Regions from separate parts of the Homo sapiens genome. Here region 2 is linked to region 1. The links come from fine-mapping of genetic effects on gene expression. A gene starts in region 1. The other region holds a variant in brackets. All regions are shown on one strand. Distances are between the middles of the regions.

Evidence for each region.
Region 2: its variant is fine-mapped to the expression of MPND in whole blood (TOPMed, PIP above 0.99).

What each region holds. Positions count from the first base shown.
Region 1 is chr19:4,342,375-4,345,272 of GRCh38, reverse strand. It overlaps MPND (MPN domain containing), which reads right to left and starts at 1,711. Exons shown (of 13, transcript NM_001300862.2): 1 at 1,673-1,711; 2 at 1,279-1,565. The coding sequence starts at 1,679. RefSeq lists a silencer at 1,570-1,859 and enhancers at 1,928-2,659, 2,680-2,799.
Region 2 is chr19:4,401,754-4,404,651 of GRCh38, reverse strand. It overlaps CHAF1A (chromatin assembly factor 1 subunit A), which reads right to left and starts at 2,012. Exons shown (of 15, transcript NM_005483.3): 1 at 1,838-2,012. The coding sequence starts at 1,889. RefSeq lists enhancers at 859-1,554, 1,555-2,252 and a silencer at 1,765-2,044. The variant T/C (reference allele first, on the strand shown) is at 1,632.

The DNA.
Region 1 (2,898 bases):
GAGTTTGAGACCAGCCTGGCCAACATGGTGAAACCCCATCTCTACTAAAAATATAAAAATTAGCCAGGCGTGGTGGCGGGTGCCTGTAATCCCAGCTACTCAAGAGGCTAAGGCAGGAGAATTGCTTGAACCGGGAGGCAGAGGTTGCAGTGAGCCGAGATCATGCTACTGCATTCCAGCCTGGGCAACAGCGCGAGACTCTGTCTCAAAAAAAAAAAAAAAAAAAAAAAAAGGCCGGGCATGGTGGCTCACGCCTATAATCCCAGCACTTTGGGAGCTGAGGCAGGCGGACCACGAGGTCAGGAGTTCAAGACCAGCCTGGCCAATATAGTGAAACCCCGTCTCTACTAAAACTGCAAAAAAAAAAAATTAGCCAGGCGTGGTGGCGCATACCTGTAGTCCCAGCTACTCGGGAGGCTGAGGCAGAAAATCGCTTGAACCGGGAGGCAGAGGTTGCAGTGAGCCGAGATCGAGCAACTGCATTCCAGCCTGGGCAAAAAAGCGAGACTCTGTCTCAAAAAAAAAAAAAAAAAAAAAGTACTAATACCTACCACAGATAAAGTGCTTACCATGTGGCAGGCGCCTGCTGAGGGCTTTATTCATTTAACCATCCCCTAATTTTCCCATGGTGGGGAAATATTCCATTTCACGGCTGGGAAACCACAGGAAGGCCGGGGTGTTGCCCATCTGACCCTGCGCGGGTGGTGGCTCCTCTCTGAGCCTCAGCTTCTCCTTTGTGGGATGGGGTGTTTGGTAATCTACGTCCTCCCCACCAGAAGGACCCATCTGTGCCTCAGATTCCTCTCTCCACATGGGGCTTGTCCCGTAAAAAGAGCTCCGGGCCTCAGTGTCCCCTCCACGGGAGCTCCTCCTGCAGGAAAGGAGCTCTGGGCCTCAGTTTCCCCTCCCCACACTGGGGCTTGTCCTAAAGCAAGGGAGCTCTCCAGGCCTCAGTCTCCCTTCCTCACACCGGGGCTCTTCCTGCCGCCAAGGGAGCTCCGGGCCTCAGTCTCCCCTCTTCATGTCGGGGCTCTTCCTGCAGCCAAGAGAGCTCCGAGCCTCAGTTTCCCCTCCTCACACTGGAGCTCTTCCTGCAGTCAACGGAGCCCCGGGCCTCAGTTTCCCCTCGCCACACCGGGGCTCGTCTCTCAGCAAGGGAGCTCCGGGCCTCAGTGTCCCCTCCCTACACTGAAGCTTGTCCTGCAGCAAGGGAACTCCAGGCCTCAGTTTCCCCTTCCTGCCCGAGCCGCGATGGGACGAGGGAGGCGGGGTGCTCACCAGGTAGTAGATGGACAGCACCCCGGCGCCAGGCTCCAGCAGCGCGTCTTTGAGGAGCACCCGCAGTGTGACCGCGCGCCTGGTGAGCGCGCCCCCGGGCCCGCCGCAGCCCCCCGCCCCGGCCCCGCCGCCGCCGCCTCCTCCGCTGACGCTACTGCCGCCGCCGCCACTGCGTCCACCGCCCGCTCCCGCATTCGGCCGCTCAGGGTCCTCGGCCTCCGCTTCGTCCTCGTCCTCCTCCGGCGCCTCCTCGCCCGCACCGCCCGCCGGGGACAGCGGCTCCGGAGCTGCGGACAGCGAGAGGCTGCAGGGAGGCCGCTCGCCCCACGGCTCTGCAGCCCCGCGCCCCTGCAGCCCCGCGCCCCGCGCCTCCGCCCCGCTGGGCCCGCCGTACCTGCCATGGCCGCGCCTCCCCGCGCCCGGAGCTCTAGACTCCGGCTTCCCGGCACGTCACGCGGCCCCGCCCCGGGGAGGGGAGGGGCGCCCCAACCATTGGCCGTCGCCGGGGTCGGGGGAAGGGCTCGGCGCGCTGGGGTGGGCGGAGAAACTGAGGCCTCGGGGATGCCCACGCGGGAGAGAGATCGGGAACTCAGCCCTCTGGGAACATTCGGGAAACTGAGGCGTGACGGGGTGTTGACCGGGAGCTCATTGGTGCGAATGGGGAAACTGAGGCCTCGCTGTCCAGGGATAGAGGTTGCAAGGTGGAAGCCTGGGGCGGGTGCGCGAGTGGCTCAGCCTGCTGCAAGGAGAGGAGAAGGTGAGACCTGCGGTCACCGCACTTGAGGAACTCAGAGGCCTCGGCCTTTAGGACCAGGGGAGAAACTCAGGTCCAGGGGAACAATGCGGACTCCAATAGGGAACAGCCTCGCGCAGACACAGGTGGAGCCAAAGAGCCCAAGCCGGCCTCAGTCGCTAAAGAATTAACTCCCACCCTCCCGGGCGGCCCTCGACTGATTCCATGATTGGACCGTTGCGGAGCCCGCCAGCCAATGATAAGAGTCCCATTTATTTCACCCTCAACCAATCGATAGCAAGCTACTGGATTCCCGCACCAACCAATCCGTGTCAACTATCTGATTACACCAACTCGGATTTGACCAATGGGCAGACGTCCATGTAAACCAATCAGTAGAAACCCTTAGTTATGAGCGCAAACCATCAGAGGCAGGGACTGGACTCACCAGCCAATCAGCTCCGGGTATAAGGCCAGCCGAGTCCGGCCCTCCATACCCTTGGGCGGAGCAGGAGGCAGGGCCGGGCTCGTTGCGCGCCTGATCAGTGCAGCCCCGGCCTTTGTCCCCTACCCTGTTTCTGCAACTACATCCCCGACCCTGTCCTGGGACCTTCGTCCCGGAGCCCAGGCTCTGGGATTTCCCTCAGTCCCTGGCAGGGTTGAAAGTCCGGGATGGGGACTTCCTAAAGCTCCGGGACGCCGTGGGATGGGCTCAAGTGCGGGTGGCTTTGCCCAGACCGCAGTCGGGAAGTGGGAACTGGACAGTAGGGGTGCGGGGGAGGCTCTCCAGGGTGCTCGGGAATGTTCTCAGGAAGAAGACTTGACATAGAGCAAGAGCTGGGTACATGTGAACTATTGTTGTCCAGCCCAGGCACCCTTTAGGGGCC
Region 2 (2,898 bases), 59 kb before region 1:
GACTGGGGCTTCCTAAAAAACTCCATCGTCCATACATGAAACCACCCCTCACCCACCGCCCCAAGCTTAGTGAATAAGAAAAGGTACTGAGAAAATTCATGTTTCCTTTCTAGCCACTTCAAAGAAATAAAGACAGTATCATTCTCAAGTGTCCACTTACCAAAAGCCATGGATTTCTACCCCCTAACTGAAGGATATGATTTTTAGTCACTTAACTTTATTTTCGAGACAATCACAAAAATCTATTTGTGTGGCTTTGAGTCACTAGCTTTGGTGCAAGTGGAACAGAAACAACCTCATTAAAAACAGGACCCACCCTCATTAAAAAATCTTGTATATAAAACGGGACACTCCCAATCCAGAGATCCAAAGATACACACGATTAACACATATGTGTGTATAAAGTTACTAACTGCTCTTTATTCTGCGATTACATCCTTTCTAATTTTATTTGGCACTAAAATATACTTTCCTTTCATGATAGCATGGTCCTAGCGAGTAGCGATTTTTTTTTTTAAAGTTAAATATCCTGGCCAGGCATGGTGGCTCATGCCTGTAATCCCAGCATTTTGGGAGGCCAATGCAGGTGGATTACCTGAGGTCAGAAGTTCGAGACCAGCCTGCCCAACATGGTGAAACCCCGTCTCTACTAAAAAATACAAAAATTAGCCAGGCATGGTGGTGCAGGCCTGTAATCCCAGCTACTTGGGAGGCTGAGGCAGAAGAATCGCTTGAACCAGAGAGGCAGAGGTTGGGCAACAGAGCAAGACTCAGTCTCAAAATAAATAAATAAATAAAGTTAAACATCCTGACTTAAAACATCACAGCTCCACGACAGTACCAACTTTATATTAATTTTATGTCTCCGGGAAATCCCACAGGCTAGAAGGAACTACAGCCATGATTTTCAGCCAAGGCGGAATCTGCCCCATAGGGGACACAGGGCAATGGTATTTCTGGCTGTTACTAAGGCATGGTGAGAGGGGCTGCTACTGGCCTGCAAAAGGCGGAGGCCAGGGATGATGCTTAACACCCTGCAGTGCCGTGCCCAGGACGGCAACAAATATCAACACTGCTGAGGCTGAGAAACTGGACTGGCGTCCATTCTAGCCCTTCATTCGTTCACGTTATTTACTGAGCACCTACTATGTGCCAAAGCGTAATGCCAAGTGCTGCCAAAGCGTTATGTAATGCAGAGTCCAGCAAGGGAGAGGGACAGTCTGGTCTTCCTTGGTTCACCCTCCCACGTTTCAGGAGGCCTGTGGTGGGCTCCAAAGACCCCATTCCAAGGCACACGGAGGAGGAAGTCACGGTGCATATCAGGAAGGAGCAAGAACTCGGGAGTCCCACCCTCCTGGCCATCTCTACCATCTGGGCCTCTTCTTACCCGGGCTTACCCCGACCCTCAGCGGCATCGGTACTGGTCCCCGAGCCCGTGCGACCTTGGGCCTCAGTTTCCCCACCCGCTGCAAGGTCCAACATGGTCAAGGGACACAAACGCATCCAGTAACCTGCAGGGCAAGCCCTTTCGCTTCCCTGGGCCTCAGTTTCCCCTCTCGGCCCCTCCGACCCACCGCCCCAGAGAGTCCTGGAGGGACGAACTGACGCAAAAGCGCCGGAAACAAACAATA[T/C]GGTCGCGGCTACAACAATAACGTCAACAAGGGTGCCCTTGGGGACGCCAGGCCCTCGCTGGGGATGAGAAGGCCCCAGGGGGTGAACGCCCGGCCCGCAGGACCAGGCTTGGCGCCCGGAGGCCCGTCCGCCTCCCATCGCCGCCTCGGCCCGTCCAGGCCGCGCGCCGCGCCCCCCCTTCCCCTCGGCGCGGGCCCGAACCGACCTGTGGCGGCTCCCCTGGCGCCGGGCGCCCCGCACTCCAGCTCCTCCAGCATCGCCCCGGCGGCAGCTCGACCTCCTCTCAGGCGGCGGAGGCGCGGGCTCCCCTCAGGCGGCCGCTGCTCTTCGCCCTCCCGCCCGCGCCGCTGCTGCCGCCGCGGCCGCCGCGCTCGTATTTGGCGGGAACCGCGGCGACCCCCGCAGTCCGCGCGCCAATTGGGCGAGCCCGGGTCACGTGACGGCCCGCCTCGGGAATTGAGGGGCGCCGGGGGCATCCTCGCGAGATCCGTGACTTCCATTCCTCCCAGGGCTCGCCCATTGACATATCCGCGAGGGACTGGGCTTCCCCTCGGAGGCCTGTCATTGGCTGGGAGGAGCTGCCCTGCGATTGGAGGAAGGAGGTGTCAAGCTCATTGCTCTGCGCTGCGACTGGCTGATCGCGTGGGATAGTCCCTAAGAGGAGGGAGGCCCAGGCTCTTACGTCACCAGAACATTTTACGCAAGGCGCAGATGACAACTTGAAAGTGGGATTTAGATGAGGAACCTGGAGTTTTGAGTTTATCCTAATGGGACATCGGCTAAATATAGCAACAGCAATTAAAATTATAAATTGCTTTCTACAAGAACAATAAAACGAAGTCTGGGGAGCGCTTCGGAAGTATTTGACATTCAGTAAATAACATGTAGAATGAGTGAACGAAATGGACGAAATGGATCGTTTCTGGTTTAATCCTCAGGAAATTGGCACATGCTGTTTTCTCTGCCTAGAACAATCTTTTCGCAGCTCTTTTCCTGGCTAATTTATACTTTTCAGATCTTAGATCGTCACCCCAGGAAGCCTTTTCTTCCCCAACCCTGACAATATCAAGTGCCTACAACACTGTTCTTTTCCTTAAAGCAATTACAGCTGTGTCTATTTATTAGTTTGTTATTTGACTAATGAATTAATTTCTGCCTTTTGTCATTAGTTCTGGCGAGGGTAGGACTCATTCCTCACTGGAACCCCAGGACCTGTTAGTAACTGATCATATTTACCAGGTCAATAAATGTTTGAGTGAATGTATA